4 linked regions of the Homo sapiens genome follow. The protein of the gene in region 1 interacts with the protein of each later gene in a pairwise test. Each region holds a gene or a part of one and is shown on either strand. Other genes may lie near its edges. The genes, in order: PRDM14, EIF4E2, AKAP9 and RBM10.

What was found.
Region 2: the proteins of PRDM14 (region 1) and EIF4E2 interact in binary tests that used the Homo sapiens proteins (3 or more experiments, as listed by UniProt).
Region 3: the proteins of PRDM14 (region 1) and AKAP9 interact in binary tests that used the Homo sapiens proteins (3 or more experiments, as listed by UniProt).
Region 4: the proteins of PRDM14 (region 1) and RBM10 interact in binary tests that used the Homo sapiens proteins (3 or more experiments, as listed by UniProt).

What each region holds. Positions count from the first base shown.
Region 1 is NC_000008.11:70,068,249-70,075,504, reverse strand, and holds the start of PRDM14 (PR domain zinc finger protein 14), read left to right. Parts: upstream 1-4,252; 5' UTR 4,253-4,355; intron 4,356-5,620; 5' UTR 5,621-5,644; coding exon 5,645-6,344; intron 6,345-6,972; coding exon 6,973-7,026; intron 7,027-7,117; coding exon 7,118-7,256. UniProt on the Homo sapiens protein: Transcription factor that has both positive and negative roles on transcription. Required for the maintenance of embryonic stem cell identity and the reacquisition of pluripotency in somatic cells.
Region 2 is NC_000002.12:232,560,687-232,567,710, forward strand, and holds part of EIF4E2 (eukaryotic translation initiation factor 4E type 2), read left to right. Parts: intron 1-3,560; coding exon 3,561-3,665; intron 3,666-6,142; coding exon 6,143-6,295; intron 6,296-6,391; coding exon 6,392-6,528; intron 6,529-7,024. UniProt on the Homo sapiens protein: Recognizes and binds the 7-methylguanosine-containing mRNA cap during an early step in the initiation. Acts as a repressor of translation initiation.
Region 3 is NC_000007.14:91,943,862-91,950,885, forward strand, and holds part of AKAP9 (A-kinase anchor protein 9), read left to right. Parts: intron 1-7,024. UniProt on the Homo sapiens protein: Scaffolding protein that assembles several protein kinases and phosphatases on the centrosome and Golgi apparatus. Required to maintain the integrity of the Golgi apparatus. Required for microtubule nucleation at the cis-side of the Golgi apparatus.
Region 4 is NC_000023.11:47,176,213-47,183,236, forward strand, and holds part of RBM10 (RNA-binding protein 10), read left to right. Parts: intron 1-287; coding exon 288-374; intron 375-2,890; coding exon 2,891-2,951; intron 2,952-3,106; coding exon 3,107-3,283; intron 3,284-3,333; exon of another isoform or gene 3,334-3,569; intron 3,570-3,667; coding exon 3,668-3,828; intron 3,829-3,999; coding exon 4,000-4,097; intron 4,098-4,206; coding exon 4,207-4,294; intron 4,295-5,002; coding exon 5,003-5,189; intron 5,190-5,294; coding exon 5,295-5,434; intron 5,435-5,536; coding exon 5,537-5,654; intron 5,655-5,738; coding exon 5,739-5,830; intron 5,831-5,949; coding exon 5,950-6,114; intron 6,115-7,024. UniProt on the Homo sapiens protein: Binds to ssRNA containing the consensus sequence 5'-AGGUAA-3'. May be involved in post-transcriptional processing, most probably in mRNA splicing. Binds to RNA homopolymers, with a preference for poly(G) and poly(U) and little for poly(A).

The sequences.
Region 1 (7,256 bases):
AAACAAAATGCTGAATTTGATTTAATGATATGCATGCTGAAGTTCTTTAGTGATGAAGTATGCTGATGTCTGCAGTGACTTCTTACTACTTCTTGGTGAATACTTGGAAGTAAAGCTGTAAGGATACTTACATCTTAGCAAGTGTTCTCTGCAAGACCTGGTGTCTGCTGACATTCCAACCTCAAGCTGTCTCCTGGCACCAGTTCTGTGAATCAGCCAAGCTTCCTCCAGGCTTAAGGCCTTAGCACCAAGGGTTCTGTGGCCCTGGAGTACCACTTGTCCTCATCCCCTTCACCAAGTTCATTTCTACACATCTTTCCAATTTGATAGGTTGGGAGAACCCTCCTGTACTCCCAGCCTAGACTGAGGCTCGTTACTTGTACTACACTTTCTTCCCTCCTTATTGCAGTTCATAGTGACTCATTCATCAAGTATTCACACACATACAGACCTTCTTCATTAGGCTTTTAAGGGGATCAAGACTGCTTTGTTCACAATTGTATTCCCTATGCTTGGCTTGCTGACTGGCTCATCAATAGGCAGGCATTCAAAAGAAACTTTGTTATGTAAATGACTAAAAGGCAATTAGAATACGATTTTACTTCTTATGTGAAAGACAGGCAGCTTTAAAGAATTGGCAATACTCCCAAGGTGTGGTAGCTCACACGTGTAATCCCAGTACTTTGGGAGGCTGAGGTGGGAGGATGGCTTTACACAAGGAATTTGAGACTAGCCTAGGCAATATAGCAAGACCCCCGCCTCTACCAAAAATTAAAAGGTTAGGCGGGTGTGGTGGCACATACCTGTAGTCCTAGCTCCTGGGGAGGCTGACACAGGACAATTGCTTGAACCCAGGAGTTGGAGGCAGTAGTGAGCCGCAATCATGCTGCTGCATTCCAGACTAAGTGACAGAGTGAGGGCCTGTCTCTATGAAAGAAAAAAAAATTTAAGGCCGGGCGTGGTGGCACATGTCTGTAATCCCAGCACTTTGGGAGGCTGAGGCAGGTGGATCACTTGAACTTAGGAGTTTGACATCAGCCTGGGCAACATGGTGAAATCCCTGTCTCTACAAAAAACACAAAATTAGACAGGCTGAGATGAGAGGATCGCTTGAGCTGGGGCAGTTGAGGTGCACTGTAGCCTGGGCGACAGAGTGAGACCCTGTCTCAAAAAAAAAAAAAAGGAATGGCAATATTCGGTATTAGATGAAGCATGGAGAAATAGGCACTTGCCCTCACTGCTGGAGGAAGTATAAATTGGTATGGTTTGAAGTACTTGTTTATTTTGTATTTTTTGAGGCAGAATCTCACTCTGTCACCCAGGCTGGAGTGCAGTGGCGTGATCTTGACTCACTGCAACCTCTGCCTCCTGGATTCAAGCTAGTCTCCTGCCTCAGCCCTCCGAGTAACTGGGATTACAGGCTTGTGCCACCATGCTTGGCTAATGTTCGTATTTTTAGTAGAGATGGGGTTTCACCATGTTGGCCAGGCTGGTCTTGAACTCCTGACCTCTAGTGATCCACCCACTTAAACCTCCCAAAGTGCTGGGGTTACAGGTGTGAGCCACTGCGCCCAGTCTTGAAGTACTTGTTTAAATGATCAGTGTTTATACCTGTTGATCCAGCAACTTCACACCTGGATATTTCTTCTACAAGGCACAGTAGCACAACTATGTATCTGTATCAGTGTTTCTGTACACTGCCAGAAGTATTGAAAAACTGGCAACAACTTAAATACCTTTCAAGAGGAGGCTGATAAACTATGAGCACACCTATAAAATGGAAATTCTGTACCACGCAACCATTATAAAGAATAAATTTGCCGGTGTGGTGGCTCAGGTCTGCCATCCCAGCAATTTGGGAGGCCAAGGTGGGTGGATCCCTTGAGTTCAGTAGTTTGAGATCAGCCTGGGCAACATGGTGAAACCTGTCTCCACAAAAATATACAAAAATTAGCCGGGCTTGGTGGCGCATGACTGTAGTCCCAGCTAGTTGAGGGGAAGGGGCCGGGTGGTGAGACGGGAGGACAGCTTGAGCCCAGGAGGCAGAGGCTGCAATGAGCCAAGATCATGCCACTGTACTCCAGCCTGGGTGACAAAGTGAGACCCTGTCTCAAAATAATAATGATAATACTAAAATAAGGTTAATTCTACTATACTGATAGGGAATGATTACTAGTAGGAGCTAGGCCGTTGCAGAAACGAGTGAAGTATAATCCCATTTTTATTTTTACAAAATCCTACGTAATCCTACACAATCTAAAAGTATAGTGGGTTTTGGTTTGTTTGTTTGTTTGTTTGTTTTTAAGGAATGGGGGTAGGGAGCAAACCAAACTGTTGATCAGGATTATCTCCTAGAGTAGAAATGGGAAGCATGGATTTCAACTTTTCTTTTATCGATTTCTCCCAACTTCTTAAAACAAGCAAGTGTTATTTTAAAATAGTGTCAAATATAGTAAACTCTGGATTCTTTGCAAAACAAACCTCTAAGATAAGGTTTGATATTGCTTCCGCTAAAATAAAGCTACGACACTTCCGTGCACGAAAAAACGGCCTCTTGAGGACCTGCAACCCACAGATCACCCAGGTGCCCCCATATCATTCTTGAAATCCTACCTGTAAAGCCCAGGAGGAAGTATAGCGAATGCCAGTGGGTCTAGGAGCTCTGGGGTGAGCACGCCTCCGGAAGGAAAACGGCAACAGAATTTATTCTGCTTTTCCAAGTAAATGATCCTTCCACAGAGGCACTTGGGACAAGAGGCGACGGGTACTTTTCACGTTTTCGATCTATTGGCTAAGATCCTATCACCTCAAAACAAGGAGACGAGGAAACCCTGGGATCTTGATCCCATTTCGATTGAGAAAACAACACGCTCCTTGCGAAGCGAAACGGGGCTGGCCGCGGGCAGCGCGGAACCACGCGAAGGCGTCGGGGGCGGGCGGGCGCGGGGACCAGGGCCACCCGGTGCAGCAAAGGGGGCAAGCAGGCGGCAGGGCGCGCGGGGAGACAAGGCTGAGTGCACGCCGCCCGCGCCCTCGAAGGCTCTAGTCCCACTCCTTCCTCCCTTCTTGCAGCCCCGCCGCGCCCTGGCGAAGGCTACAGGGTCAGGTTCCCCGCACCGAGGAGCCCAGAAGCCCGGCTGCGGGCGCTCTGAAGATCCGGGACCCCGGCCTCCGTCCCCCGCCAGCTTTAGGGACTCTGGCGGCGTCTCTTAGCCGGGTAGATGTTCCTCCTTTCCCTCTCTCTTCCAAGCCGCTGCCAGGCCGGGGGTGAGGCTGCACCTCAGTCTTCAGCCCCGAAGGCCGCGCCCGGGGCGGGTCGCTCCCCATTCAGCTAAGAGGAAGCAGCGGCCGGGGGGCAGGCGAGGAACCTGTCCCGGCTCACCCGGCAAGACTGCGTTTCCCCCACCCTCGGCGCTTCTTTCTGTGAATGTGAATGGAACTAAGCGTTCCTTTCTCTCCCTCAATGGCCGGCGAGGAGAATTCAAATGCGGTCTTTGGGCGCTCGGTATGGGTCTGGACCTTGGTTTTCAGAGCCTGCGCGTCCAAGGTCGCTAGCCTTTCCCGAAGGAAGTGACAGCTGCGGCGGCGCGGGAGGCCCATCCTCGGTCGTTTAAAGCCACTTAAGGAATAAAAGCCCCCGAGAGAGCAAAACGACCACCCGAAACCTCGGAAGCGTCGGGGGTGCCGGGCCCAACGCTCCCACGTGTCACTGCCGGGGACTCGCGAGGCGAAGCTTCCCAGCGCTCAAGGCGCTCCCGCCTCGTCCCCAGGTATCAGGAACAGACACCCACCAGGTCCACCAGCGGGTCAGACGCCGCCTTCGGGCAGGCTGGGATCTTCCGAACTGGGAGCGGAGAGTAAGGGGCTCGACCCCGGGACGCGAGTCCGGCCTTCTGGACTCCGGTTCAGGGTGTGTGTGCGCGCGGAGGGGCTTATCTGGGGGCCCTGGGTAGCACACGTGTTCGGTTTTTTTCTCCCCGACTCCGCACGCCTGGAGCGGCAATACTGCCTGCCCTAGAAGGCCAGCGGCGAGTGCTCGCCACTAGGGTCCCAGGGAGGGTTTGGAAAACTGATGAGTTAAGTGAGCGACCCCAGGGGACAGAGGGCGAGTCGAGAGTCGGCCAATGGCTGCGGTGGGCGGGGAGAAGACGACGCGGGGATCTGCGTGGGCCGGGTCAATTCCCTACCCTCGACCTGTCGATGCCCCGCGGCCCCGCCCGCCCTCTTAAGCCTGGCTCAGCCCTCAGGGCCCGCCCGAAGTCTACCGAGCCCGAGTGGCCTACCGAGCCCGAGTGGCCCCGCAGCGTCCAGGAGGCGCCCGCTCCGCGGTGGCGCTCTTGGAGGTGGTGTCGGAGGTAGGCACGGGACAGGACGCGCCTGGGGCCCGGGGCGGTGGTCTTCCAGGGCCGTTGGGGAGGGCGGCAGCACTCGCTGGCGCAGTTCGTTTTGGATGGTCGTTCTGCCCTCTCGGGGGCTTTGAATCCCAAGTTGCAGATCCCTGAGGTCGGAGGAGGCTAGGAGAAGGGCGCCTTTGGAGGATCGGGAGGAGACGGGCCGCTGCCTGTGTCGTGGCTGACCTCTTCTCCTGACCCCGTGTTCTTTAATTTCTGAGTCATGACCCTGCTTGGTTTTCTTATTGGGCTCATTGATCTCAAGACCCGCCGGCCCTGAAGGGGCTTCATTCTTCAGCCTCGGTGAACTTGCTGCCTGTCTATTAAAACGCCATCCTTTCCCGGCGGTGCGGGGGCGGGAGGACTGGCAGTCGCCGAGGCTCTTCGCTCCCACCTGGCCAGGGCTCGTCCACGCGGCTCCCGAGGGGCTACCCCAGGCCCCAATAGTCCTGGTAGAATGATTGGAGTTTCCGAGGAACCCGGGGAATGTGGCGGACGCTGCCCGCGAGGGAAAAGAGGTTCAGGCGGCGCATCCTAGGGCAGCCAAAAGTGGCGCGCCCCTCCCCTGCGGGCAGTCAGGACCGCCAGGACCCGCGGGGTCACACCGCTGGGCCAGAGCAGGTCGCGGGGTCCCTGGACCTGCCCGGGGGCTCTGGGAGCGCGTCTCCATCTGCGCGGTGCGACCCAGGGTCCTCGGCTCTTCCCTCCCAGCCGAGGGCCCAGGAGCGCCTGGAGCTGTCGCTTGCTCCATTGCCCTCCGACCGCCTGCGCTCGGCTCCCGGCCCAGCCCCGAGGTTGGCAGGGCCCCGCGGCTCCCACAGACCCTACCAACGAGTTTTGTAGGACTGAGAAGAAGGAAGGAAAGGGAACTTCAATGGGTTTTGCAGGAACCGGGTTGGGGGCCGAAAGCGGAGAGCGGGTGTGGGAAGGCGGCCGGGCTTAGGGAAGGGGTGCTTGGAGAGGGAAGGGGAAGGCAACACTAACCCGGAATTTAGAGTAGGGCAGGATCCCGGCAGATTTCCGTTTGGGGCTTTTTTGTGTTTGCTTCTATTGCTGTTTTTTCGTTTTGTCTTAATTGTGGGAGCGGGCTGGCGGGATCGGACTGGGGGCGTTTATCCTGTTCCCTTGGATCTGGGGCTGGCTGGGGTGGAGGAGGCTGGTGGGGAGGCGCGGGTCGGACCCCGGGAAGCTCCCGCGCGGTGTCCTCAGCGGCGCCCGCTTTTCTGCAGAGCCGCCGAGCGTGCGGTCCCGGGATGGCTCTACCCCGGCCAAGTGAGGCCGTGCCTCAGGACAAGGTGTGCTACCCGCCGGAGAGCAGCCCGCAGAACCTGGCCGCGTACTACACGCCTTTCCCGTCCTATGGACACTACAGAAACAGCCTGGCCACCGTGGAGGAAGACTTCCAACCTTTCCGGCAGCTGGAGGCCGCAGCGTCTGCTGCCCCCGCCATGCCCCCCTTCCCCTTCCGGATGGCGCCTCCCTTGCTGAGCCCGGGTCTGGGCCTACAGAGGGAGCCTCTCTACGATCTGCCCTGGTACAGCAAGCTGCCACCGTGGTACCCAATTCCCCACGTCCCCAGGGAAGTGCCGCCCTTCCTGAGCAGCAGCCACGAGTACGCGGGTGCCAGCAGTGAAGATCTGGGCCACCAAATCATTGGTGGCGACAACGAGAGTGGCCCGTGTTGTGGACCTGACACTTTAATTCCACCGCCCCCTGCGGATGCTTCTCTGTTACCTGAGGGGCTGAGGACCTCCCAGTTATTACCTTGCTCACCCAGCAAGCAGTCAGAGGATGGTCCCAAACCCTCCAACCAAGAAGGGAAGTCCCCTGCTCGGTTCCAGTTCACGGAGGAGGACCTGCACTTCGTTCTGTACGGGGTCACTCCCAGCCTGGAGCACCCAGCCAGCCTGCACCATGCGATTTCAGGCCTCCTGGTCCCCCCAGACAGCTCTGGTAAAGGGAGTTCACACCATTTGGGAGTCGAATTGGACGGGAATGCAGGCGGGAACGGGAGTGTCCGGGAAGAGGCGCTTCCAGGTGGAGCTGAGGCTGCAGAGTGCGGGAAGGGGGAAGTACCTCCATGAGAGCCAGGGCTGTTCTAGGCTCACTTCTGAGGCCCTGCTTGCTTAACTGCATGACTAAGGTTGGTTTTAGTGAGAGCTGAGGACCAAGAGAGAAATGGTTCCTGCAGCGAACTCCCAGGTAGGTTCAGATTCTATGCTAACATGCAATGACAGCCTTCAGCAGTTCACACCTAACAGTCCCAGCTCAGCTAGCTACGCTGACCTTAGTCAGGCATTACCTCTGATCCTCAAATTCCTTGAATTTGCCTAATGGGGTTAATTACATAAACTTCCATGAGGCTGTTCTGAGTCTCAAATGAGAAATTGTATATGGAATTGTTTACAGTGAAATCGTGTATGAACAGACCATGTAAAATGAGCAGGGAAAAATAGAAACAACAAATAAATATCAAACTGGGATGATGGTTACCTTTAGGGAATTAAGGAGGGAAACACCTCATAAAAGCACTTTATAATGCATTTTTAATGAAAAATTGTTTTAACCTGCCTTTTGCTAGGATCTGATTCTCTTCCTCAAACTCTGGATAAAGACTCCCTTCAACTTCCAGAAGGTAGGCAGGACTCCTTGCATGGATTTCTTTCCCTGAACTAATGCAGAGTCAACTCTCCTCATTCTCTTTTCCTGCCTCGGCTTTCCCCTAGGTCTATGCCTCATGCAGACGGTGTTTGGTGAAGTCCCACATTTTGGTGTGTTCTGCAGTAGTTTTATCGCCAAAGGAGTCAGGTTTGGGCCCTTTCAAGGTAAAGTGGTCAATGCCAGTGAAGTGAAGACCTACGGAGA
Region 2 (7,024 bases), on another chromosome or scaffold:
TGGGAGAAAATATTGCAAATCATATCTAATACTTGTATCTAGAATACTCTTACAACTCAGTTATAATCTGCTTAATATGAAATCAACATCATTACTATGCTGAGCTGATAAAATTTCAGCCTAAAGCAAAGATCTTGTTTAGTTTGCCAGTGCTATCTTAGAATCAGCAAACTTAGGGGTTTTGTAATAATAAACTACCTTGTGCACTGGTTCATATTTGGTTCAATAAATGCTTGTTGAATGAATTCAAGGCTCTAGTAGGCTTCTAAAAGGAATGAAGGCACAGATCCTGTCCTTGGGGAAATAAGATGTGCCCAGGAATTTCTAATACAGGGAAGACAGTAAGTGATACTATGGGAAAGGCATTTAGAGTGCTCTTGGAGTTTGGAGGAAAGAAGGAATTGATTCCAGTTTGGGGAATACTGCCTTGGAAGAGATGGGTTTAAGATTGATTTTAAAGAATTTGGCCAGGCCTGGTAGCTCATGCCTGTAATCCCAGCACTTCGGGAGGCCAAGGTGGGAGGATCGCTTGAAGCCAGGAGTTCAAAACCAGCCTGGGCAACATAGTGAGATCTTATCTCAAAAAAAGATTTTTTTGGAGTAATTATGCATACTTCTTGCATTTTTATTTCCCTCTTGTGAAAAAAAAAAGCATATAAGAATTTACCCAAATTGTACGAGGAGGGTTTTTCTTTTGTTTCAGTGTATATGTTAAGGAGTGGTTTATCATCAGGACTATCTTGGGTTAAGGCTTCATCCATGCTCACTGGATGTGTGACAGTATTTAAAGTCTGTCATTTTGACTCTGTAGGTCTGGACCTGAAAAATAGAAATAAAGTCTGTTGTGTAATTCAGGTCACTAGGAAATGGCTCACAATATTAAATGCATCACAGATAAATAATTACATTATGAATCCTTTTATCAAATTGAAAGCAGTGTTTCCCAGTGATTCTTAGCCTAATCATTAACAACATTTAAAAGTTCTTGAAGTCAGAGTGACTAGGAAGGCATCATCTTGAAATGGAAAGAGCACTAGACTTGGTAATCAGAGCTCACCTATTCTGATGCTTGACCCTCTTGGTTAGAGCAACTCAGTCCTGAAACCTTTCTCAACTATAAAACAAGTTGCTGACATGATTTCTGAGGTCCTTTCGGCACCTCATATTCTGAGTCTGTGAATGCTTATTTTTTTTTTTGGTTTCAATTAGAACTGTCAAATCTTTTAAAGTTTAATAATATTTCTCAGGCCAGGCACAGTAGCTAATGCCTGTAGTCCCAGCACTCAGGGAGGCCAAGGAGGGAGGATCACTTGAATCCAGGACTTCAAGACCAGCCTGGCAACAGTGTTAGACTTCATCTCTACAAAAAAAGTAAAAAAATAGCTGGGCATGGTGGTGCCCACTTGTGGTCCCAGCTACTCAGGAGGCTGAGGCAGGAGGATTGCTTGAGCCTGGGAAGTCGAGGCTGCAGTGAGCCATGATCACACTGCTGCACTCCAGCCTGGGTAACAGAGCAAGACCCCATCTCAAATGATGAATGAATGAATGAATGATAGTCTCGAGCTGTTTAACTTCATCTCTCTTATGGTTTGCATATAAGATTGTGCAGTGGGGCTGGGCGCGGTGGCTCACGCCTGTAATCACAACACTTTGGAAGGCCAAGGCAGGTGGATCACCTGAGGTCAGGAGTTCGAGACCAGCCTGGCTAACATGGTGAATGGTGAAACCCCATCTACTAAAAATACAAAAATTAGCCAGGCGTGGTGGTGTGTGCCTGTAGTCCCAGCTACTCGGGAGGCTGAGGCAGGAGAATCACTTGAACCCAGAAGGCAGAGGTTGCAGTGAGCTGAGGCAGGCTGCACCATTGCACTCCAGCCTGGACAAAAAGAGCGAAACTCCATCTCAAAAAAACAAACAAAAAAAAGATTGTGCAGTGTAGTTGTAAGATTGGGGAGACCAAACTGTTAAAGCGATTATTGACTGGGGAACTGGAGATGGTTGACATACTTTGTCCTCACCAAGCCCCTTTCAGTTCCTTATTCACAATGAGCCACTAGTGGGTGTACTTGGTTCTAGTGGGTATATGTGGTTTTATTCAACTATGTTAGGGTGGATAAAGGTTTACATTATTGCCGATTGTATTCATATGACCATTTACTATTCCGAGTCACTACATGCAGCTAAGCTTAGCAGTTGCTGAGTATAAAGCACTGCCTTGAAGCCCTATAGATGGCGTTAGTTCTGACTTCTTTTTACCATGTAAGATGCATCACGTGTGCTTGTGCTAGAGAGGAACTAAAGGGACAGCCATTTCACGCAGTGTAAGGCTGATTTCTCCTTAGGTGCTCCCCATATCTAGAAGTATGACCTGAATCTTTGTCTACTCGATACCCATTGTCAGCTCCACAGTTGTGGTATCTTGCTGTATGTTGATTTAGAGCCTGCTCAGCAGTTTAGCAGATACCAGCTATTTCTCATTGGAATGTTCCGTGTTTTCTCTTTCCTCCTAAAGTGTGCCTCTTCACTGGCCAGTACTTACTACGTATCCTCTGTGAATAAGGAAATAATCTTTCCTATCAAGACACTAGTGAACCTGTAGTCCCAGCTACTTGGGAGGCTGAGATGGGAGGATCCCTTGACACCAGGAGTTAGAGGCTGTGATGAGCTATGATCATACTGCTGCGTAGACCCTGTCTCTTTTTTTTTTCTTTTTTTTTAAGGGGAGGGGGGGTGACACTAATGAGAAAAACAGGACTACTGTGATGAATACAAATAAGCATATACTTGATGGAAAAATATAAATCTAGTTTTCTCACGGGATTGTGAAGGAGCGGCAAGGAGAAACATAATTTTTCTAGCTAAGAAGAGGGCCTTAAACCCTAGCTATGAGAAGCTAAGTCCTGTATGATTTTGGATTGGCCTGGACTTAGCAACAGCACCATGATGTAGAGTGGTATGTGTGGTACATGTGGTTGATTCTATCACTTACGCTTAGTAACTAAACAGGTCTAAGAGGTATTTACATGTGGTTGATTCTATCACTTATGCTTACTAACTAAACAGGTCTAAGAGGTATTTCATTCAGCAAATGCTATATTTGCCAGTTAAACAATCTTTCATCGGTAAGTGATTTGGTTCTAAAAAATGCATTCAGGCTGAGGCTGTGTGACACTTACATACCTCAAGGCTAAAGAGTTTCCATTGTGCAAAAACCTGGTCCTCTTACTGCATGTGATGACTACCCTGCAGCTTGAGTGGGAGAGTGCGTATTAACATGGTTTCACCAACTAAAGCTCCTGGCTGAGGCTTGCATTTCTCACCAAAGATTTTATTCTTGAATTGCGAATGTTACATTTTTTATTTTGTCAAACTAGATGGTATGTTTTTCCTCTAATATGTCTTCCCTCACAACACCACACATGAAAATGAGTCCTCTGAAAAGGACAGCCTGTAGTATAGTGTCTTCCATGCTTATGTTCTTAACTAAATCTCAACCTTGGGATGCATTCAAAGAAAAGTAAAAGACACATGTTTTTTACTCTGGGGTCTTCTCTCTGCAGGTGGAGCAGTTCTGGAGGTTTTATAGCCACATGGTACGTCCTGGGGACCTGACAGGCCACAGTGACTTCCATCTCTTCAAAGAAGGAATTAAACCCATGTGGGAGGTAAGGACTAATGGCTTCTGACTGCTTTTTTGAGCAAGTTTGGGTTTTTTTGTTTTGTCTCTTAGCCCTGCCAAGGTTAAAAGTATTTTATTTTATTTTATTTTATTTTATTTTATTTGAGACGGAGTGTCGCTCTGTCACCCAGGCTGAGCGCAGTGGCGCGATCTCGGCTCACTGCAAGCTCCGCCTCCCAGGTTCACGCCATTCTCTTGCCTCAGCCTCCCTAGTAGCTGGGACTACAGGCGCCCACCACCGCGCCCGGCTAATTTTTTGTGTTTTTTAGTAGAGACGGAGTTTCACCGTGTTAGCCAGGATGGTCTCGATCTCCTGACCTCGTGATCCGCCCGCCTTGGACTCCCAAAATGCTGGGATTACAGGCGTGAGCCACCGTGCCCAGCTGGTTAAAAGTGTTTTAAAGTCTCTCAAAACTGCATCACTCTCCAGTATATCCTTGGAACCCGAGCCTCTAGAGAAATGCACTGATGCCATTTTTTGTCTGTGTGGGTTGGTGCTGGGTGTTTTTTAAAGACTGTTTTATGACTAAAATGGTATTAGAACATTAAAGGATTTTTGTTTTCAGTTACCTTTATCCTTATAGAACTTGTTTGTGCGTGTGTGTAATATTTTTACATAGTACACATATGATTAAAGTGGGTAAGAAAATAAGTTTAAAGGCAGGAACTGGAGACCTAGAACTTTGCAGAGCCAGTATTCGGCTGCGCCCTGGTGTAGTGCATCTTCTATTCTGGTGCCATGGCATTTTTCGAGAAGACAAATGTGGTCACATCCACGCCACCCATCTTATACAGCTCCTCATTGCTCACATGATCTTGCACCTCATTTACCTTTCAAGCCTCATCTCCCATCATCTCTAAATCTTCCCTTCCCTGCAGGTGGACCCTCCTGTCAGTTTATGCACAGACATGTTCTTCCCAGTGCCCGCAGTGCCCTTCAGCTGCTTTTCCTGACTCACTCCCGTTGACCTTAAGACCCACTTCTTGGCAGGGCATGGTGGCCCATGCCTGTAATCCCAGCACTTTGGGAGGTCGAGGTGGACAGATCACCTGAGGTCAGGAGTTTGAGGCCAGCCTGGCCAACATGGTGAAACCCCGTCTCTACTAAAAATACAAAAATTAGCCAGGTGTGGTGGCACGCGCCTGTAATCCCAGCTACTCGGGAGGCTGAGACAGGAGACTCACTTGAACCCAGGAGGTGGAGGTTGCACTGAGCCAAGATTGTGCCACTGCACTCCAGCCTGGGTGACAGAGCGAGACTCCATCTCAAAAAAAGAAAAGAAAAAAAAAGACCCACTTCTTGACTGTTTCCAACTATCTTGTTCTTCCTTAACATAGTGTGCATATCTGTTAACAGCAGCACTTATAATTATAGTATCATTGCTGTAATTAATATCCTTGGCTGTCTCTTCTACTGGACTGGATCTGAGTAGAGATTGGGGCTTCAGCCAGGCGCAGTGGCTCACTCCTGTAATCCCAGCACTTTGGGAATCCGAGGCAGACAGATCACGAGGTCAAGGGTTCGAGACCAGCCTGGCCAATATGGTGAAACCCTGTCTCTACTAAAAATACAATAATTAGCCGGGTGTGGTGGCATGTGCCTGTAGTCCCAGCTACCCAGGAGGCAGAGACAGGAGAATCGCTTGAACCCAAGAGGCAGAAGTGGCAGTGAGCCGATATCGCACCACTGCACTCCAGACTGGGTGACAGCGGGAGACTCCATCGCAAAAAAGAAAAAAAAAAAAACTAGATTGGGGCTTCATGTCTGTGTACTTGGTATGTAGTGACAGTCAGTACTTTTTTTTGTCGTCGTTGTTGTTTTGTTTTGTTTTGTTTTTTGAGACGGAGTCTTGCTGTGTTTCCCAGGCGGGAGTGCAGTGGCACGATCTCGGCTCCCTGCAAGCTCTGCCTCCCGAGTTCACGCCATTCTCCCGCCTCAGCCTCCCGAGTAGCTGGGACTACAGGCGCCCACCACCATGCCCGGCTAATTTTGTTTTTGTATTTTTAGTAGAGACGCGGTTTCACCGTGTCAGCCAGGATGGTCTCGATCTCCTCACCTCGTGATTCGCCCACCTCAGCCTTCCAAAGTGTTGGGATTACGGGCGTGAGCCACTGCGCCCAGCAGACATTCAGTACTTTTAGCAAGTAAACGGATGATCTGTGCTTGAAATATGACATCATTTCGTTTTGATTCCTAAAGTATTTCCAGTAAAGGGGATTATTTTTAAAAGGTCTGTTTAGCCATTTTAATAAATGGCTTATGCCAAGGATCCCAGCCTTGTTTTTCTTTTTTTCCCCATTTCTTCTCTCCCTAGTCCTACCATCAGTTTTTCTATAGAGTTGAATAATTGGAAAGTGATATGACTTCTTAGTGTTTAAGAGATTCTTGGCTTTTTACTGCCTTCATACAAAAAAAGGCTGTGAAACCATATTTTAACTTCAGTGCTTTCTGTCTTTTTACAGGATGATGCAAATAAAAATGGTGGCAAGTGGATTATTCGGCTGCGGAAGGGCTTGGCCTCCCGTTGCTGGGAGAATCTCATTTTGGCCATGCTGGGGGAACAGTTCATGGTTGGGGAGGAGATCTGTGGGGCTGTGGTGTCTGTCCGCTTTCAGGTAAGCCACCCATGAGCCAGGCTGGTTTCTTGTGTTGCCTTTGCTCTCCTCGCTGCCCCTGATTTGCTTTGATGATTCCTTCTGTTCCTCTGGTAGGAAGACATTATTTCAATATGGAATAAGACTGCCAGTGACCAAGCAACCACAGCCCGAATCCGGGACACACTTCGGCGAGTGCTTAACCTACCTCCCAACACCATTATGGAATACAAAACTCACACCGACAGCATCAAGTACGTGTTGGGGGGTTATGGGAGGACGTGTCCCTAAGCTTAGTATAAGTAGATCTGTAGTTGGGCCCAGAGGAATATGGCCGGACAGGAGACTTACTTGTGGAGAAGGGACAGACCAGGCCTTCCCTCTAGGGCTTCTGGCTACTTGCTGCAGTTCTTTGTCAGCGAGGCTCCCTGCCACCTATACTACCAGGTGCTTTGTAGCAGAGAGAGCCCATCTGCAGAAACCCAGTTGTACTACCTGGGCTTGCTTAATTTCTACAGGCTGTCTTGTCTTTCATATGCTAACCACTATCTTAAAATGAAAGACAAGTGCTTTTCTTTTTCTTGCTGTTTTTTAAGATAATTTCACCCTGCCCACCCTCACCCCACTTCTGCATGTCTTTTTAACTTGTTAGCTTCAGTCTATTTTCTTTGTCCTGGGATACTGACTACTTATCAGGAATGACTCCATTTCCTTGTGTATAGAGCTGACTCTTAGAAGAAGGGGGATAGT
Region 3 (7,024 bases), on another chromosome or scaffold:
TTTATCTGAGACTTCATTCTGCAAATGTCTCATTTGTTCACTGGACTTAAGTATTGTATTTGATAATCTAGTTTTGCAAACCACAACTTACAAATCTTTTTGGGGGTAATTTATTGATAAACAGTTCCATTGGAAAATTCCCTTTCTGTATCTAAACCTTATAAATGATCACTTTTTAAACAGTTTGTCATGTATGCAGTATAATATATAGTATACTGTATAAAATGTTTTATACTACCCCAAATCTGTAATAATGGGTTAATAAATTATGATATGTAAAATAATTCTACAAAGACTTTTTGAGTGTGGAAAATGCCCACAAATAATGCCAGGTTAAAAAGAAAAAAGTTACCAGGAAAAGGTATATGTACATATTTAAATATGAAGACACCTGAAAAAAAGCACCAAGATGTAAATCGTGGCTATCTCTGGGTGGTGGCTTATAGGCAATTTTAATTTTCTTTATACTTTTAGTATTTTCCAAATTCTTGATACAATGTATCTCTTTTATGACCAGAAAAGAATATTCAAATGCCATTTTTTTTTTTTTTGAGACAGCCTGTCTCCCAGGCTGGAGTGCAGTGGCAGGATCTTGGCTCACTGCAGCCTCCACCTCCCAGGTTCAAGCGATTCTCCTGCCTCAGCCTCCCAAGTAGCTGGGATTACAGGCATTTACCACCACGCCTGGCTAATTTTTGTATTTTTAGTAGAGATGGGGTTTCACCATGTTGGCCAGGCTGGTCTCGAACTCCTGCCGTTAAGTGATCTGCCTGCCTCGACCTCCCAAAGTGCTGGGATTACAGGCATGAGCCACTGCACTCAGCCTCAAATGCCATTTTTTAAAAAACATAAAGGCTTATCAAATACATTATATTAAACACATGTTATAGTGTATGACCATTATCCAGAACAGGAAAATGAGGCACAGAATAACTAGGTTTCCTATTTTAGCGTAGGCCTGGAATTGTAATTGCTATTTCAGTGCAGAGTGTATAATATAGTTGGGATTATATTGTTAGACATTTTATAGATTTCCTTTCTGTTTTTGTTGTGCTTATTCTTTCCTTGCTGTTAGTTCGTATTGCTATGGGCATGCTCTTACTCCTCATCTGCCTCTTTTCCTAATTTGCTGTTTTAGATTTGCTACGACTAAGGAACCCAGAACTGAGGTTGACAGAATACTATGTAAAAAGAAAAAACAACAACAACAAAGACCTTAGGCGGGGTGTGATGGCTCACTCCTGTAATCCCAACACTGGGAGGCTGAGGTGGGAGGATCGCTTGAGCCCAGAGGTTCTAGATCAGCCTGGGCAATGTAGTGAGACCCCATCTCTAAAAAGAAAAAAGTATAAAAAACAAAACAGGTGGGGCGCAGTGGCTCACACCTGTAATCCAAGCACTTTAGGAGGTTGAGGTGGGTGGATCATCTGAGGTCAGGAGTTTGAGACCAGCCTGGCCAACATGGCAAAACCCCGTCTCTACTAAAAAATACAAAAAAATTAGCCAGGCGTGGTGGCAGGTACTAATCCCAGCTACTGGGGAGGTGGAGGCAGGAGAATCACTTGAACCCAGGAGGTGGAGGTTGCAGTGAACCGAGGTTGTGCCACTGTACTCCAGCCTGGGTGACAGAGCAAGACTCTGTCTCAAAAAACAAAACAAAACAAAAACAGAGGCCAGTGTAGCCTGCCCAGTGGGCTTTAGGGCAGTTTAGTTTTTCTGCTGCTTGTTGGTTGTTTTGGTTTACTGTTGGGTCCTCAGCTATTTCCTCAGTATTGATGTTGCAAGAAGCATGACCCTGGGAGATGTGAGACATTACTGCATTATGTATTAAGTAAATATTTTCAGAGCTGGGCTAGCTCCCTCTGCAGTGTTTTGACGAGGATGGCACTACATAGGTTGTCCTTGTGTTGAACCAAACTATTTTAACTCCATTTTAAATGACTTCATTTTTTTCCAAGTATAATTATTCATGGCACGTAAAGGAAGTATTGTAATTTAAGTGAACAGAATTAAATAGAGGACAGTTGTATATTTAATATAAAATTATTACTCATGTAAATTTGCATTAGGTATACTTTTTAAAGTTATTCAGTATTTTATATAATGGGCATTATTTGCTGAATAATTATAAAAAACTACTGTCTATTATATTCAGTAATTTGTAATTACATGACTTTTGTTTAACAAACATTTTCAGTGTGAAGAGTAGTTCCAATTGTGTACAAAAAAAAGGATGGTGCTCCATGCAAGCTGTATATTGATTATTGATAGCAGGACTTTTCAGTTACTGTTTCCACTGTGATAGACAAAGCTGGTTATGGTGTAAAACTGTTCTTTGCATATTTCAGATACTTTGTTCCACAGCTAAGAAAGTGTTTTCCCTTCCTGTTTTAAGCATTCTAGTTTTTCATACTTAGATGTGGCAGAGCTTACTTAGCATTCCGAGTAGATGCAGCAGTTTGATAGCTTCATCAACATTTATTGCAGCAATAGTGCAGTGCCTGTGACTTAAAACTAATTCATAACCTTCAGGCTTTTTTTTTTTTTGAGACGAGATCTCGCTGTGTTGTCCAGGCTGGAGTGGCAGCCTGCCTTGACCTCCTGAGCTCAAGTGATCCTCCTGCCTCAACCTCCTGAGCACCTGGGACTACAGATGTGCACCACCACACCTGGCTAATTGTTAAAATTTTTTTGTAGAGATGGGATTTCACCATGTTGCCCAGGCTGGTCTTGAACTCCTGGGCTCAAGCAATCCTCCTGCCTTAACCTCCCAAAGTGCCGAGATTATAGGGGTGACCCACTGCACCCAGCTTAGGCTTTGTCGGAATGAAGCAAAACATGGTGTTTAGAGAGAGAATGTGGAGGAAGGAACGTGATGCCCTGTCAGTGAAACTGAAAGTTGAATGATAGCTCATGGAAAGAGGAAGTGAAAAAGGTAGGATACATCCAAGTGATTGAAATATGACAAGAATGGAACAAAAATTTTTTCAAACAAAAACATCTCTTATTTTATAAATAAAAAGGTTCATAGTAAAAGCTAAACTATGTCTACAAAATATCTATTATAGGCTACTGAATATTGAAATGTAAATGAATTTCTTCTAATATAGCTAGAAAAGGTTATGGTAAATTGCTAAACAATAAGGGACATTATTTATATTCATTTCTTAGTAAGATTCCACTAAAATTAAGATTAGTCACTTTATGTAATTGCTTAACATCCATTTAAAAACTATAATTTGGAAAAGCTACGGAATTTTTCAAAACTTATTTATAAAAGTGGTTTGGTGTCTGGGGTGTGTGTGTGTGTGTGCGTGTGTGTGTGTGTGTGTGTGCTGGAGAGAGGGAGAAAGAGAATTTATAATACTGCTATCTGGTCTGGTAGAAATGGCACTAGGACTTTGGAGACATTTATGTGTTCATTTGTTCAACCAACATTTTTGAATGCCTACGACTGCAGCTATGAACTTTTACTTAGCAAGCATTTTTTTTTCCCCCCGAGATGGAGTCTCACTCTGTCACCCAGGCTGGAGTGCAGTGGCACGATCTCGGCTCACTGCAACCTCCACCTCCTGGGTTCTAGCTATTCTCCTGCCTCAGCCTCCCGAGTAGCTGGGACTACAGGCGCCCACCACCACACCCGGCTAGGTTTTTATTTTTAGTAGAGACAGGGTTTCACCATATTGGCCAGGCTGGTCTCAAACTCCTGACCTTGTGATCCGTCCACCTTGGCCTCCCAAAGTGCTGGGATTACAGGCGTGAGCAACCGCGCCCGGCCGCAAACATTTATTTAAATGATCACAAATTCTGTGCCTTATTGTCTGTTGGAATAATCTTATGATGTGTACCTCAACAGGTGTTTTGAAGGATAAATGAAATAATGGTTGGGAGCTTTTTGAGTTCTCTAGGTGCTAGATATAAAGAAGCTATAATTTTTTTTAATTGAGGTGAAATTCATAAGCAAAATTAACCATCTTTAAGTGAACTTAACACAGTGGCTTAACACAATCTTATGCAACTACTGCTTCTGTCTACTTCCCAAACATCTTTCCATCTCAAAATATAACCCTGTGCCCATTAAGCAGATATTCTTCATTGCTTCTTCCCTCTAGCCACTAACAATCACCAACGCACTCTCTGGATTTACCAGTTGTAGATATTTAATATGAAAGGAATCATATAATATGTGACCCTTTGTGTCTGGCTTCTTTCACTTAGTATGTTTTCAAGGTTCATCCATTTTGCTGCATATATCAGTACTTCATTCCTTTTTATGGCTGAATAATATTCCATTGTATGTATATACCATAATTTGTCCAATGATAGGCATTTGGGTTGTTTCTGTCTTTTGGCTATTGTGAATAGTGCTGCTGTGAACATTTGTATGGATGTATTTGAGTACCTGTTTTCATTTCTCTTGGGTATATACCTAGTAGTAGAACTGAGCAAGGTCATATGGTAGTTATATTTCAACTTTTTGAGGAACTGCCAAACTGTTTCCATAGTGACTGTACCATTTTACCTTCCCATCAGCAATGTATAGGACATTCCAATTTTCCCATAACCTCATTAACAGTTGTGTTTTCTGTTTTTTTTGTTTGTTTGTTTTGTTTTTTTGTTTTTTTAATACTCATCCTTGTGGGTATTAAGTGGTTTCTAATTGTGGTTTTGGTTTGTATTTTCCTAATGAATAATGATATTGAGTATCATCTTTTAATGCACTTTTTGGCCACTTGTAGATTTCTTTTTTTTTTTTTTTTTTTTTTTGAGATGGAGTTTTGCTCTTGTCTCCCAGGCTTGAGTGCAATGGCGCAACCTCAGCTCACTGCAACCTCCACCTCCTGGGTTCAAGTGATTCTCCTGCCTCAGCCTCCCTAGTAGATGGGATTACAGGCATCCACCACCATGCCCGATTAATTTTTTTGTATTTTTAGCAGAGATGGGGTTTCACCATGTTGGCCAGGCTGGTCTTGAACTCCTGACCTCAGGTGATCTGCCCGCCTCAGCCTCCCCAGTAGCTGTGATTACAGGCATCCACCACCATGCCCGATTAATTTTTTTGTATTTTTAGCAGAAATGGGATTTCACCATGTTGGCCAGGCTGGTCTTGAACTCCTGACCTCAGGTGATCTGCCCACCTCGGCCTCCCAAAGTGCTGGGATTACAGGCCTGAGCCACTGCGCCTAGCCCATTTGTAGATCTTCTTTAGAGAAATGTCTATTAATATCCCTTGCCCATTTTTTAATTGGGTTGTTACCAACTTCTTTTATCTAATATTAATTATATATGTATATAAAATATATATATATCCTTTCCGTATGTGTGGAGAGAGAGAGAACGTGTGCACTCAAGCACCAGAGAGGAATGGGTAGAAATACGTATCCCCAGTGGGATTATCTTCCATATATATATATTTTTAGGCTTTTTGGGCTTTGCCAAAATTTAAATTGTTGCTTCCTTTGAGTGATAGGTTCTTGGTGAGTTGATAACAGCATGATGCTGAAGCTTGATTTCTTTGTTGGCCAGTGAGTCATTCCATTCCATGAGCAGCTGTTTTACAAGTGCATGCAGTTGGTTAAAGGGGCACCTGTTGGATTTTTGGCTTGATCATTGCCAGTCCATTTACACTGTGAGAAAAAAGTAACTTAGTGTTCAAAAATGAAAAGACCTGTCATTTTAAACATGGGGGATCTGTAGCTACTTCACTAGTATGAGATGTCTTTGTTGTCATATTGACACCCCTTTTATTTTTTGTCTTAGTCATCACCAAACTGTAACTTACAACACTTAGTGCCCTTCTAGGTACATTGCATAAAGCTTTGGTTGATTTTTGCATGGGTTTAACAGTATTCAAAAGTGTTCAATATTCAGAGTATTCAAAAATTTAACATTATTTCAGGAGTAGTTTTGCTTAGGTTCTTTGTTTAAATTTATAGATTCTTTTGTAATATGTAAAATTCCTTTTTCCTCCTTGTTCACTAACAATGTAGTGTTTGTTTTCAGTTACCATCAGAGTTAAGATTCTTATTGTGGTTTACTGTTCTCTGAGATTTTTGTGTGGTGTGAAAGTTTCTCTGTAAAAGTCTAAGAGTTTTTCCCCCTTTTAAGAAATAATTTCTTAAAGCCCCCAAGATTATTGTTTTGATGATTCAGAACTATAATCAACTTTACTATACAAAGTCCTAATCTGTAAAGATTGATTTCATAGGTTCTCTGATTTACAGATCTCTGAAAAACTAATAGGGTATAAAATCTAGGCTCTCTCTCCTATTAGTACTGAACACACTATAAAATTCCTTGTTGTTTACTAGGATTGCTCATTGTGGGCTCTGTGGTTAGGCTGTATTTATTCCTCCAGGGTCTCACTTTTTTTTTTTTTTTTTTTTGAGACAGAGTCTTGCTCTGTCACCCAGGCTGGAGTGCAGTGGCACTATCTCGGCTCAGTGCAAGCTCTGCCTCCCGGGTTCACGCCATTCTCCTGCCTCAGCCTCCCCAGCAGCTGGGACCACAGGTGCACGCTGCCAAGCCCGGCTAATTTTTCTGTATTTTTAGTAGAGACGGGGTTTCACTGTGTTAGCCAGTATGGTCTCAATCTCCTGACCTCATGATCCGCCTGCCTCGGCCTCCCAAAGTGCTGGGATTACAGGCGTGAGCCACAACGTCCAGGCTAGGGTCTCACTTTTATTCAAGTTAGTATTGCCTTATTAGTTGTTTCCCCAGAGAAGATAGTGACAGGGATCAATTATAACTAAAATAGTAGTTCTCCATATGTATCATGAATCAAATTTTGTGTGTGGAGACCTTGTGGGGATTGCAGTGGGCATGGGGCAGAGATCTCAGTTAATTCTTACGCCGTTTATATCCTCTACTCCATTTCTTGAGAGCCAAATAAATTAGTAGATCTTCTTCTAAATGGCAAGATATTAGAAAATATGTTAAAACTGCATTAGGAAATATCTACTAGGAGTTTATATATGAAATAATGAGTTTTGGCTGAAAGTTACAGAAACTCTTTTCTATTCAT
Region 4 (7,024 bases), on another chromosome or scaffold:
CTCCCCACTGTCCGGCAAGCGTCGGTCAGCCGAACACTGTGTGCCTGGTGGTGTGTGTTCACATGTGTGCGTGCGTGTGCCCGGCAGAGCAGCAAACAGCTGCGCCCGAGAGCTGTGGCGCTTTCCCTCCCTACCTCCCTTCTTCCCTCCATCCGCTCTCCGACCTCCCTCCGTTCCCTGTCCCTCATCCATCCAGCTGAAGGGCTCGCTCACTCTCTTCTCCTATGCTGAAACGGTGCGTGGGGCACTGCTGCCTGGACCTCACTGTGCTCTGCTTTTTCCCGCAGCACTCCCTCAACATCCTGGGCCAGAAGGTGTCGATGCACTACAGTGACCCCAAGCCCAAGATCAATGAGGACTGGCTGTGCAATAAGGTACAGGGGCGGTGGGCAGCAGTTGTCATGGACAGAGACAGCAACAGCAGTGGCGGCGATCTCTCCCTTCCTCTCCCGCTCTTTCTCCCTCCATCTCTCCCCCTCCCCCAATCTCTCCTCTCCCTCTGTCTCTCTCTCTCTCTCTCTCTCTCTCTCTCATTCTCTATCCCTTGCTAGCTCAGCTTGAGTAGTCACCATTCCTAGCCAGCCATATACAAATGTGTAGTGAGCGTTCACTTGGTGCAGGCTCTGTCCTCCTAAAATGCAGTCTTGCCTGGAGTTCCAGTAGACTTTAAGGAAATATATACGTGGATGATGAATTAGTGACAGTGTAGACTTGAAGTGGTGGTGTGGAGAATGTGGGCTTCAGAGCCAGACTGGCTGAAATGAGACTATCCCAGATCGGCCTTGATTTTGGCCAAGGTGCTTAGCCTCTCTTTGCCTCACTTTCCCCATCTCTAAAATGTGAATATTAATGACACCTCTCCCAAAAGGTGGTTGGGAGGATTCAGCTGTGTTAATGAGAGAGTAACACTCAGAACAGTGCCTGGCCCACATTTAACACAGTCGAATTGTTAACTGTAATCATGAAAGAAAAGCACAGAGCGTTCTGAGAGCCCATAGCAGGTAGCTCAAGCCTGAAGGCCACTCTGACCAGGCCAAGTCAAACCTGAAACTGGAGGCTGTGGTTTTGTAGTCACCTCTGTCTTCCCTGAGGGGAAGCTGAGGCTCAGAGAGGTGGAACCATGGGTGAACCTTTAGCTGTGCCCTGTGCCTTGCTCCTGATCACAGGGACTTGGATGCCACAGTGGCTTCAGGTCTGCCCTGGGGCCAGCATTGTGATTCCACAGTTTGTAGAGGCCCCAACCCTCTCCCCAGGAAGTACTCTGCCTAGTCAGGGAGAGTGGTGCATCTGTTTTAAAAAAAAAAGTCCCATCAGAGGATTGGTGCTTAACATTTCTGGAGAGATAAAGACAAAGTGACAGTGGAACTCCTTCCTGTGTTTCCAGATAGCCTCAAAACCAGGGAATTCTCTTTTTTTTTTTTTTGAGACAGGATCTGGCTCTGTCGCCCAGGCTGGAGTGCAGCAATCTGGGCTCACTGCAACCTCTGTCTCCAGCGCTCAAGCCATCAGCCTCCAGAGTAGCTGGGACCACAGGCGCATGCCACCACACCCACTAATTTTTGCCTTTTTATTTTTATTTTTTTTGGTAGAGACAGGGTTTCGTCATGTTTGCCAGGCTGGTCTTGAACTCCTGAGCTCAAGCAGTCCTCACGCCTCAGCCTCCCAAAGTGCTGGGATTACAGGCGTGAGCCACCACGCCCAGCCCAAAACCAGGGAATTCTCTTGAACTCCTTCCCCTCCCCTGCATCCTGTTGGCCACCAGGTCCTGTCACTTCCATCACAGAAACGCCACCTTCCCTCCCTCGCCATTCCCGCTGCTCATGCCAATCGTCACGCTCTCACCCACTCACTGTGGAGCCCTCTCTGGTATGCTGGCCTCTTGTCCTCTTTCTCCCACGCCCTCACCTGGAACATTCCTCAAAACCACCTCTGACTACCCACGCCTCTCCTCCTCTGCTTAACCAGCCCCAGCTCAGCTTAAGCATAAGATCCTCCATTACCTAACTGGCTTCCTTCCCCGGCCTTGGCTTTTGCTTCTCCCCTTACTCTCCCACACCAGTTTCGGAAAGTCCATTGTTCCCTCCGATAACAATCCCTCCCCAGCAAGGCTTAACAAAATGAAACTTCTGGGCATCCCAGGTCAAACCTCCCTGCTTCTGTGCAGGGACTGTCCCTGCCGAGTAAATGGCACCCCACCCCCAGCCCATTTCCCTCCCCGAGCCCCTGCTGGATGGTCCATGCAGACCGACCTGCCCCTCTTCATGCTGCATCTGCCCCTGTGCTATTAGGCCATGAGGGCAGAGACCATGTTCTGGCCATGTGCAGCAGGGCCTGGCCCAGGAGTGGTGCTTAGTACCTGAGTCTGGAACAGAGATGGAGTGTGGTAGAAGCTGGGTCTCCAGATGCTGGAACATTCAAGGAAAATTTCTCAAGCGTAGCAGGATCCAACCCAGTCCTAGAGCTAAGAGGAGGGGTGCGGGTCTGGCTACTGACTTCTAGGGCTGAAACACTGAAAGGTTTCTGAATAGAGGAGCAAGTTTCAGGGAGAGGAACCTAATAAAGGGATTGAATACCTGAGGCGGGGAACAGTCCTGGGAGTTGGTGGCCTTAAGAAGGCAGAGGAAGGAGAGGAGGGAGTTGTTGTACCAAATGGGGGAGTTGTTTATTCCTGAGCTGAGTGGGTTGGCACAGAGGACAAATGAGAGTCTGGAAAGGGAAGATGCACAGTACTGAGAACAACATCAGAAGGTTCAGAAGGCACCTGCCACCATTGCCTAGGGGCTTTCCTTCCTGGGGCACTGCGGGGTCCCTGGGAGATCTCTTCATCCAAGTTTGGAGGGTGCAGTGGGAAATCCCTGCTCCCTCTGACGGCCTGGCCTGTGCCTCACAGTGTGGCGTCCAGAACTTCAAACGCCGAGAGAAGTGCTTCAAATGTGGCGTGCCCAAGTCAGGTGAGGCCCACCTACCTCTCGTGCTCTCCAGGGCGGAGCGGTTGGGGAGAAGGGAAGGGTGAGGGGTCTGTGCTCAGGGCTTGGTATAGGGAGGAGGGTGACCAGTCGTGGAGCCTTCCCCTTATCACCAGCCTGTCTCCCACTGCCCCTGACAGAGGCAGAGCAGAAGCTGCCCCTCGGCACGAGGCTGGATCAGCAGACACTGCCACTGGGTGGCCGGGAGCTGAGCCAGGGCCTGCTTCCCCTGCCGCAGCCCTACCAGGCCCAGGGAGTCCTGGCCTCCCAAGCCCTGTCACAGGGCTCGGAGCCAAGCTCAGAGAACGCCAATGACAGTGAGTCAGTTGTTCCTTCTTCCTCTGTGCCCTAGGGTGTCGGGCTGGGCTCACCAAGACCAGAGAAATGGCAGTGAGCAGGACCTCATCCTCATGGAATCTCCACTTGGTGCGGGGATAGACATTTGATGTAGGGAGAACAGGGGGAGTGGCAACATCCCACCTGACTTTGGGGGTGTGTCGGGAAGGTTCTCAGCAGACAGGCAGCCAGGCTGGCACCTGGACCGCCAAGCAGAGTTGATCCTGGAGGAAGCAGTGAGGGAAGCGGCAGTTGCAAAGGCACGGAGTGAGTGGGGGCAGAGGAAAGGGAGCAGTGGGGGCATTGAAGGGCAGGGCTGGCAAGAGTGCCAGGGGTGTCCTCTAACATTGGGCCCCTTCCCACAGCCATCATTTTGCGCAACCTGAACCCACACAGCACCATGGATTCCATCCTGGGGGCCCTGGCACCCTACGCGGTGCTGTCCTCCTCCAACGTGCGCGTCATAAAGGACAAGCAGACCCAACTGAACCGCGGCTTTGCCTTCATCCAGCTCTCCACCATCGTGGTGAGGGCGGCACAGTTGGGGGCCGGGCAGCCAGGGTCCCGGCCCCCGGGGTGGAGACGAGGGTCCTTTTCCCCAGCCTCCCACCGCGGCTGCCAGCCTGGAAATCGGGCAATGGAGCCGGGGGCCTCCCCGGGCCTGACCCTTCTGTCCCTGCCTCCCCTCCTCCCACAGGAGGCAGCCCAGCTGCTGCAGATCCTGCAGGCCCTGCACCCACCACTCACTATCGACGGCAAGACCATCAATGTTGAGTTTGCCAAGGGTTCTAAGAGGTCAGGGCCCCACCTGTGTGCCTTCCCACCCTTCCCCTCCCCACCCTCCCACTCCCCCCTACCGCTTGGGGCCTCCTATCTCACTCCCAGTCTCTAACATCCTCCTCAGGGACATGGCCTCCAATGAAGGCAGTCGCATCAGTGCTGCCTCTGTGGCCAGCACTGCCATTGCTGCGGCCCAGTGGGCCATCTCACAGGTACTCAGACCCCTTGTGCCTCCCAGCGTCCTGAGACCTGGGCTTTCTCAACCCTCCTGCACCCTCTCTGAAGCAGGAAGGCTGGCTTGCTATCCATGGATGCAAAACCCTCTCCCAGTAGCTGGCATGGCTATTCTACCTTGCTCCTGGCTCTCTAGACCCCCTGGGACATTCCCCTTCATCATCACCGCAGCTTTCTTCCCAATTGCCTCCCATGCGCTCATGTACGACGCCATTGTGCCTGGCATTCTGTGCTGTTTGGTGGGGTTTTTATTGTCCTGAATAGGTATGATATACACATATCCTTATATGTAATATATACATATATGATATACACGTATCATATGTTCCTGAATAAAAATAACGTATAAGTGGTTGAGAGAAAATTGGGAGAAGAGAATAAAGAAGTAAGAAGATGGTGTCTTCCTTGGCCTGACACCCAACACACACGCCACACACAGCAGAATCAGCAGAATCAGCCCTGGAACATTTTGGCGTTCATCTGTTTTTCTGTCTTGTGTTTGCCACTGGCCTATTTGTTCTCTTGTGGCCAGGCAACCCTCGCTTTCCACTTGTCTTAAGGCTGCATGCTTTGTCTGTCAGGTAGAAATACTAGCCCCACGTGTGGGACAGATGCTTCTAGCAGGTTCCCCACCCCCCACCCCCACACCTTCCTGTTCTAATGAACCCCTCCCACCTGCCCTTCAGGCCTCCCAAGGTGGGGAGGGTACCTGGGCCACCTCCGAGGAGCCGCCGGTCGACTACAGCTACTACCAACAGGATGAGGGCTATGGCAACAGCCAGGGCACAGAGTCTTCCCTCTATGCCCATGGCTACCTCAAGGGCACCAAGGGCCCTGGCATCACTGGAACCAAAGGGGATCCCACTGGAGCAGGTGAGCCCCAGCATCTCTCTCTGCAGCTGTGGTGGGGGCCAGCAGGCATAAAGTCCCCGGCCCCATTATTCACAGGCATTGTCCCTGCCCTGTCCCTCCTTACAGGTCCCGAGGCCTCCCTAGAGCCTGGGGCCGACTCTGTGTCGATGCAGGCTTTCTCTCGCGCCCAGCCTGGTGCTGCTCCTGGCATCTACCAACAATCAGCCGAGGCGAGCAGTAGCCAGGGCACTGCTGCCAACAGCCAGGTGAGTGAGCCCTGTGGGTATGTATCCCGGGGAGGCAGGCAGGCGGCAGGGGTGGCATGGGCAGACACTGAGCCCTGTTCTCCTGTCTGGCCCCATGACCAGTCGTATACCATCATGTCACCCGCTGTGCTCAAATCTGAGCTCCAGAGCCCTACCCATCCTAGTTCTGCTCTCCCACCGGCTACCAGCCCCACTGCCCAGGAATCCTACAGCCAGTACCGTGAGTAGCCACAGCCTGTGGGTAGGGGTGGGGAGTTCTTAATAAAGCAGGGAATAGTGTGACCCCGTTCCCCTCACCCCCTAGCTGTTCCCGACGTCTCTACCTACCAGTACGATGAGACCTCCGGCTACTACTATGACCCCCAGACCGGCCTCTACTATGACCCCAACTCCCAGGTAATAGGGCAGCCCAGGGAGGGATGGGATCGGGTCAGGTCGCGTCAGGAACAGCTAGCCCTGCAGGTTCCCTTCACAAGGTCTTCCCTCACATCCCCTCTTCCCTCCTCCTCCCTCAGTATTACTACAATGCTCAGAGCCAGCAGTACCTGTACTGGGATGGGGAGAGGCGGACCTATGTTCCCGCCCTGGAGCAGTCGGCCGACGGACATAAGGAGACAGGGGCACCCTCGAAGGAGGGCAAAGAGAAGAAGGAGAAGCACAAGACCAAGACAGCTCAACAGGTGAACACCAGGGTCCAGCAGTCACTGGCTGGCTGTGTGGTGTCTTCCAGCAACGGCACTCTGTCAGCTCTTGCCCTCTCCTGCCAAGGGAGATGGCGGGCAGGTGTGGATGTGGGCAGTGACTGCTTAGCAGACCATGCTCTTGCCCCAGCTCTGCTCTTTGCTGAATGGCCTTGAGCCAGAGCAGTCTCCTCAGTGTGTGGCAGGGTTGCCCAACTCCAGGAGGTGGCTTGTGCCATCCGAGTGAGCCCTGTCAGGTGTCTTCTGTCCCATGGTGGGGACCCTCACATTCTGCTGGTGAATATACATGTATGCCAGAGAAATTCTCACAGGCCATAAGGGGGTGGGCAGGAAAAAAGCCCTGCAATGTTTTGTGGGAGTGGGCAGATGGAGGGCACCTCAGTGTCTCTCTGTGGAGAAAGGGTGTGACACTGTGAGCGTAGCGTTTACAAGCAAGCACTAAGTGTTACCTTAGCAACCTGATGAATTCTAAAAATGGTGCTGTGCTGGGGGGAACATGGAAATATAGAATGTGGCATTGTGTCATGCATATAAAGTTATACACAAATAAACATTCCTATGCATTTTTAAATGATAAAATGGAAATGCACAACAAATGTGACAGCGTGGGTGTATGTCAGGGGAAGAGGAGTGTCTTCATCCATTTGCTGCTCCATAACAATACCACAGACTGGGTAATTTATAAGGAAAAGAGATTGATTTGGCTCACAGTTCTGTAGGCAGGGAAGCCCAGTGGTGTTGGCATCTGGTGAGGGCCTTCTTGCCGCATCATAACATGGCAAAGGGCAAGAGAGCATGCATGAGAGCAAGAGAAAATTGGGCCAAACTCCCCCTTTTTATCTGGAACCCACTCAGTGATGGCATTAAATGGAGACTCAAAAGGTGGAGG